3 linked regions of the Homo sapiens genome follow. The protein of the gene in region 2 purifies or fractionates together with the protein of the main gene of each other region. This does not show direct contact. Each region holds a gene or a part of one and is shown on either strand. Other genes may lie near its edges.

Region 1 (3,654 bases), on a different chromosome or scaffold from region 2:
TTTGATATTTTGCAAGGAAAATTGCATTCTTCCATGTCTACAACAGAAATGGTATGTTCCTTGGCATGACTTGGAAAATGGATAAATTGTTGCCTTTTTGCCTTTCTAGTATGAGAATTTGAATCTTCTATTCCTCAAACTGATTGTGATGTGGATCTGCCTCTTACCCAAGATAAAAAGCAAAATACGTTCCAATGACCAAAGATAACTGTGCCATGGGGGCTCTACTTTTCACATATTTGAAAGGAAATTATGTATAATACTAGACAATAAGTCACTTTTAGAGATAAAGTGCAAATTTGGGTCTCAGTTCTTTTTTTTTTTTTTTGAGACGGAGTCTAGCTCTGTCACCCGGACTGGAGTCCAGTAGCGCGATCTTGGCTCACTGCAACCTCCACCTCCCAGGTTCATGCCATTCTCCTGCCTCAGCCTCCTGAGTACCTGGGACTACAGGCGCCCGCCACCATGCCCAGTTAATTTTTTGTAATTTTTAGTAGAGACGGGGTTTCACCGTGTTAGCCAGGATGGTCTCAATCTCCTGACCTCATGATCCGCCCACCTCGGCCTCCCAAAGTGCTGGGATTACAGGCGTGAGCCATCTCGCTAGGCCAAGGGTCTCAGTTCTTAAGTTAATGCCTTTGTGTCCTAGAACAGAGTTCAGCTGAACCAACCTCTTCAGTCGATTCCAGCCTGTGAGGTTTCAGTTCTGAAATAAACAAGAGCTGAATATAGAATGGTATGGTAGACTTTGGAGACTTAGAAGGGGGTGATGGGAGGGGATGAGGGATAAAAAAACTGCATATTGGATACAATATATACTATTCTCGTGAGGTATAAACTAAAATCTCAGACTTCACCACTATACAATTCATTCATGTCACCAAAAACTATTTGTACCCCCCAAAGCTGTTAAAACTATATATATATATACTTTTTTTTTTGAGACGGAGTCTTGTTCTGTTGCCCAGGCTGGAGTGCAGTGGTGTGATCTCGGCTCACTGCAACCTCCACCTCCCAGGTTCAAGCGATTCTCCTGCCTCAGCCTCCCGGGACTACAGGCGCCCACCACCATGCCTGGCTGTTTTTTTGTATTTTTAGTAGAGACGGGGTTTCACAGTGTTAGCCAAGGCAGTCTCAATCTCCTGACCTTGTGATCCACCCACCTCGGCCTCCCAAAGTGCTGGGATTACAGGCGTGAGCCACCGCATCCGGCCTAAAATATATACTTTGAAAAAATAAAACAAAACAAGAGCTAAAGCTAAGAGGATGTACCTTGGATTTTATCATGTTTCCTGATGGGTGGATGGGTTTTCATTCTATTTTTCACTTATTCGTATAATTGAGCACCTCTCCCTCTCCCTCTCCTCCCTCTCCTCCTCCTCCTCCCTCTCCTCTCTCTCCTCTCTCTCTCTCTCTTTCTCTCTCTCTCTCTCTCTCAGAAAAAGCAGCTCTGGAGGAGGGGTGACTGCCCGAGTCAGGTGTTAGGAGACCCGAGCAGGGCTGGATTCTCATCCTATGCTGTGTGCTTTCTACGACTTAGAGCAAAGCTCAGTAAACTGTTTCTACAGACAGACAGATAGTAAATTTTTCAGTTTTATGGGCCATACAGTCTCTATCATAACTACAAAACTTTGACAGTGCAGCAGAGAATCAGCCAAAGGCAGTATGTGAAAAAATGAATGTGACCAAATGCCAATTAAAGCTTCATTCGTGAAGAGTAAAACTTAAAATGGATCACGAAACTTTGTTCTTTAGTTTTTTTCAACTATTTAAAAATGTAAAAATGGTTATTCTTTGTTCACAGGCTGTACACATTAGGCCACAGGCTGGACTCAGCCCGGGGCTCATAGCTTATAGACCATTGACTAGGGGACTTAAAGGACAGTTTTGACATAGTCTCTATTGTTGTCTTACACTCTCAACTCTGAGTTCACATCGTATCATCACTATACTTACCCTCTACTGCCTCTTTTTTAAATCTCATTTTCTATCATAAAAAGTAAGACATAGTAAAAAGAGTGAAATATCCTTCTCTTCCCACCCATATTTTACCCTATATTCTCTTTCAACAATCTAGTGGGTCTTCGTCATGCAATTAGTGCTGAAAAGCTCAGAACTTGAGATACAAATCTACTTCAGTCTCACAGTTTCATGATCTCCACTCCGGCTGCTCTGCCACAGTGAAATAGGACTGGATGCTCAATCTTAACTTCTGTCCCCAAACCAAGTGCTTAAGATATCACGTTTTACCTTTCTATAGATGCCAAAAATGGTTCCAACGGACACAAGGCAATCGATGTTGGAAGATCCATCAAGGGGATCAAAACAGACCACATATTTACCCTGAGCACAGAAAAAAGAAATACAACCTTAAAATGTTATAGCAAGATACACTAAAGGAGTATACATTAGGGGCTAAGAATGGGAATTTAGAAGAAAGTTCAAAAAATGTGGGTCTTATTTATTTGTACTGTCATGGAAGGCATGAGATGGCATACAGAATGCACAGATACACACACATACACACAAGACCATTAAACAGAGAAAATACCACTTAAGAGGTGCAGATGAAGGTAATGGAATACAGATAAGTCATGATTTCCTATATTGTTGATATAATCAAATCATAATTTTGCATTGAGTTTCCTGGCAGCCAAAGGAAAAAGAAGGTTAGTCACTCATTTTCCTTTATTTGTAAGGAAAAAAATAATTCCTTAGGTGAAGCAGAGACTTTGCTAGGGTTGAGATCTATAAGAAACTTCTCATGGAGGTCTTACAGATGCCCCTTGAGGTTGGGGTGCATAGAGTTTTCAAAAATATCCTGGCTGGGCACGGTGGCTCATGCCTAATCCTAGCACTTTGGGAGGCTAAGACAGGAGGATTGCTTGAGCCCAGGAGTTTGAGACCAGCCTGGGCAGCATAGAGAGACTCCTTCTGTAAAAAAAAAAAAAAAAAAAAAAAAAAAAAAAAAAATTCAATTAGCTGGGCATGATGCTGCACATCTGTAGTCCCAGCTACTCAGGAGGCTGAGACAGGAGGTATCACTTGAGCCAGGAGTTCGAGGCTGCAGTGAGCCATGACTGTGCACTCCAGTCTGGGTGACAGAATGAGGCCCTGTCTCTAAAAACAAAACTAAACAAAACAAATTTCTAGCGTAATTCCCAAAGTAGATAACTTTCAGTGGTAGTGGGAATACCGCAGATTCCTGTTTTGAGTGGGATTTTCAGTGGTGTGCAGGAGCTGGCTGGTATCGGCTCTCAGGAGCTAACGGTGCACATCTCTTCCCAACTCTGCCTTCAGTGATATCACATTGGTAGCTTAAAATCAACGATGGGAGAGTATTCACACCATTGACAGAGGCAAGTGGACATATCAGAGACTTGTTTGTTTGCTTTGAGACCCAGTTTACCAGCACATCACTGGGAGTTTTCCATCTCCAAATTAGCCACTTTACAATGTCGTTTTTAAATGTCTGTAGCAGATTAACATGATTCCCTGCCCTCTTGCTCTTCACAGACCACCCTCACTAATGCAGGAGGAACTGGAAACTGGAACACAGGAAGCTGCCTATCATGAAGGCCCATGATAGACAAGAGAAGTCCGGCGTGAGTGATGGAGAATATTAAACAACAAATCTAAGCCATACGCCTAAAG
Region 2 (3,654 bases):
ACATAATAGTAGCTTGTGCTAGGATAGTAGTGAAATTGGAGAGAGAGAGAGATTCTGGAAATATTTCGGCGATAAATAAGCCCAATCTGATTGTAGACTGTGTATTAGTCCGTTCTCATGCTGCTATAAAGAACTGCCTGAGATTGCATAATTTATAAAGGAAAGAGGTTTAATTCACTTACAGTTCTGCAGGGCTGGGGAGGCCTCAGGAAACTTATAATCATGGCAGAAGGGGAAGCAAACATGTCCTTCTTCACATGGTGGCAGGAGAAATGATTGCCCAGTGAAGGGGGAAGCTCCTTATAAAACCACTGGATCTTGTGAGAACTCACTATCATGAAAATAGAATGGGGAAACCACCCCAAGATTCAATTATCTCCACCTGGTCCCTCCAACAACACATATGGATTATGGGAACTACAATTCAAGATGAGATTTGGGTGGGGACACAGCCAAACCATGTCAGACTGTATATGAAGAGCAAAGGAAAAAAAGATACCAGGATGATTCCTTCCTAGTTTTTGGTCTTTTCCATTCACTGAGATGGGAAATGTGGGAGAGGCCCAAGTTTGTATGGAAGGATGATGATTTAGATTTTGGGCTTGATTTAGAACTTGAAACAACCAAGAAGAACTATCAGGAGCATTTGGATACATGTGTCTGTTTTAGTCCCTTATTGTACAGGAGTAAGATTTAATATTCAATGCTCTCGTAGTTTCTGATCAATGCTTTAAAACTCATCCATGACAGGAACTACTTTGTCTGTGTGTTTACTTGTTTATCATTGACTCTCCTACCAGGAGCACAAGTTCCAAGAGTGCAGGGACCTGTATCTCTTATTTTCTACTAATGACTGGCTCAGAGTGTGTACTCAATAAATGAATGAATGTGTGTGTTCTGGTCATGCCTAAATTTGCATGTGCTCTGAGATTAGTGTGTGGAGACATGAGTCACTAACCTGGGTGAATGACTTTGGGAAACCCCAAGCATCTGCCCCTCAACCAGGTCTTGGCCTCTCCCCCGGTAACCAAAAGGATGTTAAGTTCAAACCACCTGAGTGGCTATTTATTTCACTTAGTAGTTTATCAAAAAAAAATTTAAAGATTGATATTTTCCTCTTTTGAATAGGTTGTGGTGAAACATGGGACTGTCACTGGCTATTTATGGGAATATACATTTCTTTCCTGAAGTATCTATTCGAATAGAAAAGGTTTATTCCCTTTAACTCACTTTGAGATATATATTCTACTGGAATAAAAGAACGCATGTGAAGACGTACTTATATAATCATATTCATTTCAGTAATTAATGCCAGCATTGCTTATAATACTTAAAAGTCAGAAACAACCTAAATGTCCATAATTTGGAAAATGTGTAAATAAAAGTGGCTCATTGATGGAGTGAAATGTTCATGCAGTTACTAAAAAAAAATAGATCTGCATATACTGATATACAATATATCATTAGTTTGAAGAAAAAGTCACAAATCAATGTACATAATATGATTAATTTAAAAAAAACAACATAGGAAAAGATGTGAAGGGATGTAGACCAAATTGTCAACAGCAGTACCTCTGGAAAGTGGAATTCATGGTGAGCAAGGAGGAACTTTTTACTTGATACCCCCTCCACTGTTTGAAGTTTCTCACTTATTTATTTTGTATTAACAAACAAAAAGGAAGAAGAGCTTCTGTACAAAATGATTAAAATAAATTTGTGAATGTCCCTTAAGTGCGTGAATATTCCTCAAAGGGTTAAATCTCAACCATTTAGAAAACTTATCCAGAAGACATGGTAGTGTAGTGGAGGTCTAAGCTTAAATCCAGCTTTGCTACTTTCTAGCTGTGTGGCCTTAAGCAGATTACTTAATCTCTCAGAATTTTCCTCATCAATGAAATTGAGAGAAAGTAAAGCTTATCTCATCAGTTTCTTGCAAAGGTTAAATGAGATAATGTATAATAAAACACCCAATACCGTGTCAAACAACATAGTAAGTGCTCAGCACATAGCACTTTCCTTCTCGGGGTGCTGCACTGTTAAGTGTTGCATGCCAGACCTTGGGTAAACACACAGTACCTAGACATCATTCCGCTCCCCACCCATCTGCTTTCCTGGTCTCCTCTCTCTGCTCTCCCTATCCTTTCCTTCTTGTTCGTGACCACTCCCTCTTGTCTTTGTCTCTTCTTGTCCATAGCTAGTCACTTCTTGTCTTGCTCCTTCTTGTTCATAGCTAGTCCCTCTTCTCCTTGATTCCGCTCATATTTGCACTGTTATCTGAGGAAATGTAACAGGCACTGATGGTAAATATGCTTGGTGAGATAGCCTGCTCAGCCATAAACTCTGATAGCATTGAACCTGTGTGCATTTTGTTAACCTGCCACATGGAGTCAGGGTGCTTGTATACCTGAAAAACACTCAGGAATCAATTCCTGTCAGTCCCAGGCCACTGCCCCTTGCCGGCAAAGACCTGCCTTCACCCTCCTGCCTACCATCCCTTCCAAGCAGGCCTGTTCATAGGAAAGGAGGGGAAGTGCCATCTAGTCCTTCAAAATAGTTCTTAATTTTAAAAATATTTTAAAATATATACCTGTATTCCTATACTGTGTGAGTATCTTCTACAAACTAAAACTCCTTCTTGCCAAATCTAATACTACACAGGAAATGAGGAATAAAAAAATGTGCAAAGATGTGCATGTATTTAGGAACAGATGACATTTAGTTGTAAAGATACTCTGCCCTGGTTGGTGTGTTTCCTTCTGTTTTAGTGTAGGATGGTAGTCCCCACTCAGCACAGCAGCCTGGCCTTGGAAAGTACCTGATGGCGGGAATCAGAGAATCCCCTTCCCCTTCTCTCCTTCCCATGAGCTCTGATATCTCATCTGAAGTTTCCTTTCTACCCATGTGACAGGTCTCCTTCCCTTCTTTCACAGAGCCTGGCAAGCTGTGAATGAGTCCACCAGGGTACAAAGCTATGAAACTTTTGAAGCTTTTGAGGCACCAACTCATTTTGCAAAGAGAAGACAATCATGATAGTTTACATTTGTATCATTTTTTCAAAATGCTTTTACATGCTAGTCTCAGTGGATCTGGAACTCCTGAAGTAGTCAAGATAAGTACAAATGATACAAATGATAGCTTAGGTTTGTTGAATGTCTATATGTGCCAGGCTCTTTGCTAAATGGGGGACATTTTTTTATGCTCACCACAACCCTCTGAGGCAGGTATTATCTTCATCTCAGTTTTGCATACAAAGGAAAACAATAGTTTGGAAATAACTTGCTAGGTCAACTTCTGACTCTAACCAAATTCCCTTTTCTGACCCCCAGCAACTAATGTTGACTAGAGTGTTTAATAAACTGCTGTTTATATTACATTACCATTCAGCTGTTAGGGATTGGAGACAGAATCTGAACTCAGGGAGTCAGGTTCTAGAATTAACATTTTTGAGAGAAAATGATAGAGACAGCTAGGAAATGAGGAGTCAATGAACTGGGGAGGAGAAAATTCCACAGGATAAAGGAATTTTAAGAATAGAAAAAAAATTAAGAATTTGAAAACTTGTAGTAAGCCTGAAAGAGCAAAGTTGCAACCAGGATGACTACAATCAGGACGTTTCTCTTTTTTGATCCTGTTCACATTTTCAGCCTGATTTGC
Region 3 (3,654 bases), on a different chromosome or scaffold from region 2:
TTGTCAGTTCAGACTTAGAACAGTGTTCCTCTATAAATTGTTGCAGCCTTATCTATGTGGGCACGTGGACAACAAATCCACCTGGGTTAATCTAATGCAGTTTTTTTTTCTCTCTCTCTTTTTTTTTGAGACAGAGTTCTGCTCTTGTTGCCCAGTTGGGAGTGCAATGGCACGATCTCAGCTCACTGCAACCTCTGCCTCCTGGGTTCAAGTGATTCTCCTGCCTCAGCCTCCCAAGTAGCTGAGATTACAGGTGCCCGCCACCGTGCCCAGCTAATATTTTGTATTTTTTTTTTTTTAGTAGAGACAGGGTTTCACCCTGTTGGCCAGGCTGGTCTTGAACTCCTGACCTCAGGCAATCCACCCACCTCGGCCTCCCAAAGTGCTGGGATTACAGGCGTGAGCCCACACACCCAGCCGTCTAATGCAGTTTCTACAGTAAAGGAATTTGCAATCTTAGAAGTCAAGGCGAAGGAGCAATAGGGATTTTTATGGAAGCAGAGGTCACCCACACAATCACGTATCAGGCAGGTCATGTTAAAGCCCTGCTTTCTTGAAGCATCTGCTGTTGTGAAGCCTGGTGGCAAGTGAAGGACAGTCCCACAATGCAGACACGGTTAGCCTGGGGACTCACTGCTGAGGCGGGGAAGGATGGCTGGGAAGAAGTCACATGCCAGCGTGTGCATGGCCTTCAGCAGATCAAGAGACCCCTCGGGAATCTTTTTATTTCCCCTTGTGATCGCCATAGTGAAGCATGTAGGTGCTTCTTAACCTTTTCTGAGTTTACACTCTGCAGAGTTCAGGAACTTAGATATTTCTTTAGAAACTGCCAGTGCCAATTCAGAGATGTCCACTGTGACCCTGAAACACTTCCTGCTCTTCCACCTGCTAGACTGTTGGCCTCTAAAGGGCAAGGATGTGACTTTTTTGTTTGTAAAACATGATCTTATATAAATTTACATTGAGCCAAGTTTCAATTGACCATGTGTAGATTATCTCCCAACATGGGGGCCAAAAAACTGTGCACTAAAACAGGGTTGTATGGCTCTGAGCTAAGAAAAGTGTCAGTACACTTTTTAATACAAAAAAAAAAAGCTTTTTAGTGAGAACAGTTATTTAGCTTTTTACCTCTTGACCCACAAAGCCTAAAGTATTTACTATCTGGCTCTTCACAGGAAAAATCTACAGACCTCTGTAACCCAACATCCCTGCCAGCTCCTATGTGTGCCTTTTATGTGGGAATCCCCCAATCTCCTTTTGTTGTATTATTTTAATTATGCTGTAATTATCGAGTAATGTCCATACATCACCTGATGCCACTCCATCTTCCTGCGCCCAGTGCATTACATCTGGCCTAGAATAAAGGAAGTCCTCGAAACATCCTTGTGAAAGAAAGGCATTTCCCATTCCCTTCTACTCACAGGAGGGATTTTCCATCCCGCTCCTTGTGGGTACCTTTCCATGCTGTCTGTTTTACCTTTCTGCCTGTGTTTCTTTTTCTCTACCAATTTCCTTGCGTTTCTCATTATTGCATGTGCCACCTTCTCTCACTCTTTTTCTGAAATGTAGAAGCGGGCATTATTGAATACTTAAAATTATTTTTTTTAATGCTCACTTTAGCTCCTGTTAAAAAAAAAATTTGTAGGCACCAGGGGTTTGTTTAGGTGCTAAGAATTCAAACATAAAGAAACACAACTCTGGCCCTTGATGAGCTTACAATCTAGAGAAAATATCCCCGCCTTTTGTTGGAGGCTAATTTCAACAGCAGAACAGCAAAATAGCAGAGGCTATGTTTTTCTCTTTTAAAACAACTGAATTATTTCATATTATTATGTGACTTTTCAATTTTTTTTCCCAGTCATACCACTGTCACTTGACTGGAAGACAGTTTCCACTCCTGGATAAGGAAATGCAAATTAATTTCACATATAATTCCACAGGCATGACTAAGAAAGAACATCTTTGGTTAAAACACAGAATACGTTTTAAAACTAATGGTGGCAGCTTTTGGATTTGATTCTTATTGGAAACAAAGTCATTTATACACAATCATGTTATTTTTCCCTTCCATTAGCCAAAATAGCCAACAACAACAACAACAACAACAAAACAAAACCAACAGTAATAACAAGAATTGAGTGGACATAAATAATGACAAATATATGTAGGCTAGACATATCTATATGTACGTACATGGGCTAGTTGAATTCTAAAACAGAGGTAAAATCTGTTCTTCAACTAATATTAACATCTATTGCTAATCTTCCATGTGCTTTGAAAGTCAGCAGATATTTACACATTATCCATTTAATGTAGATAGATTTTTCCCATGTATATCATTTGATACTAGTCTTGGGGCTCTGGCTGCTGTTAAGACTAGGATAACATGTACACTAACCAGTTCTGGTGATTAGTTAAAACAAACATAGAAGCACACATACAAGTGCACGCTCACATCCAACCAGTCGTAATTCCTGGTGTGTATCTGAGACATTGTGGGGTGTCAGCTACTCACAGTCATCTATGCTCATACACAGATACACATGCACACATGTATATACAAGACAGGCATACATTGCCCCAGCAACCCCGTTTGACACCGATCCCCCGCCCTTCTTGTTTTTAAACTGTTGGTGACACCTTTGTCCCCCTGATGGTCCTATTCTCACTCTGATCAGGTTTGAGGTCTAACCTTCTCTCCGATTGCTTGGACCTGCCACGGGGGATTCCAGACCTTCCGGGCTTCTTTCCACGTGCCCGCTAGGGGCGGCCAGCTCGTCTTGCCACGGCCCAGCGCCGTTCGTGGACTCCGGGTCCAGCTCAGGGCTCTGCATGGAGTCGGGTACCGACTCGAACGCGCTGTTCTCCTCCTCCTCGTCGTCTTGCGAGGAGAAGACCGTGCTCTCGGAGATCTTGGCGCTGTCCACGGAGGAGAAGCGCGTGTGGCTGGCGAACCTGTTGCCGTTGTAGCAGGAGGGGCTGTAGCACGAGGCGCTGTAGCACGAGCTGCTGTAGCAGGACGTGCTGTAGCACGAGGAGCTGTAGCACGAGGGGCTGCAGCAGGACGCGTCACAGCCCTCGCAACTGTGGTCCCCGCCTTGCCTGGGGCTGGAGTCGCTCTCGCTCCCGGTGCTGGGGTGCGTGTCGCCATCCTGGGCCGCGCCATTGGCCAGGCTGGGGAAGTGGCCCCCGGAGTGGCCAGGGTGCGCCGTGCCTGGAGTAGCCCCCTCGGGCTCTTCTCTGTCCTCTTCCAGGGCAGACGGGTCAGCGGCCACCGTGTCCACCTCGCTGAGCCCATCCTTCTCCGAGGAGTCCTTGAGGGTGGACTCCTCCTCCGCGCCGTCCTCCTCCTCTGCCGCGCTGCCGCCCTGGGCGGAGGGCATGCTGTGCAGCAGGGTGTGGATGCGGATGTAGTGTGTCCGCGGGGTCTCGGGGTCCCCGCAGGCTGACGCGATCACCGTCTCCAGCTCGGACACAGGCAAGGAGCAGGGCCTGCTTTTTCTCTTCACCGAGGCCCGCAGCTGCAGCCTGCCCTCTCCCTGCTCCAGGGTAGACACATCTCCCTCCTCCTCCTGCTCCTTCTCCTCTTCTTCCCTTCCAGCCCGGCTCTGGGTCGTTGCTTCCTCCTCCAAGGGCTCCTCCTTGGTGCTGGCT

The links.
Region 1: the proteins of ILDR1 (region 2) and FBP1 purify together in Homo sapiens (affinity purification with mass spectrometry; one large-scale study listed by BioGRID and IntAct). This does not show direct contact.
Region 3: the proteins of ILDR1 (region 2) and HECW1 purify together in Homo sapiens (affinity purification with mass spectrometry; one large-scale study listed by BioGRID and IntAct). This does not show direct contact.

Annotation. Positions count from the first base shown.
Region 1 is NC_000009.12:94,615,518-94,619,171, forward strand, and holds part of FBP1 (fructose-1,6-bisphosphatase 1), read right to left. Parts: intron 2,344-3,654; coding exon 2,251-2,343; intron 1-2,250. UniProt on the Homo sapiens protein: Catalyzes the hydrolysis of fructose 1,6-bisphosphate to fructose 6-phosphate in the presence of divalent cations, acting as a rate-limiting enzyme in gluconeogenesis. Plays a role in regulating glucose sensing and insulin secretion of pancreatic beta-cells.
Region 2 is NC_000003.12:122,012,210-122,015,863, reverse strand, and holds part of ILDR1 (immunoglobulin-like domain-containing receptor 1 isoform 1 precursor), read left to right. Parts: intron 1-3,654. UniProt on the Homo sapiens protein: Maintains epithelial barrier function by recruiting MARVELD2/tricellulin to tricellular tight junctions (tTJs).
Region 3 is NC_000007.14:43,444,609-43,448,262, reverse strand, and holds part of HECW1 (E3 ubiquitin-protein ligase HECW1), read right to left. Parts: coding exon 2,693-3,654; intron 1-2,692. UniProt on the Homo sapiens protein: E3 ubiquitin-protein ligase that mediates ubiquitination and subsequent degradation of DVL1. Also targets the mutant SOD1 protein involved in familial amyotrophic lateral sclerosis (FALS).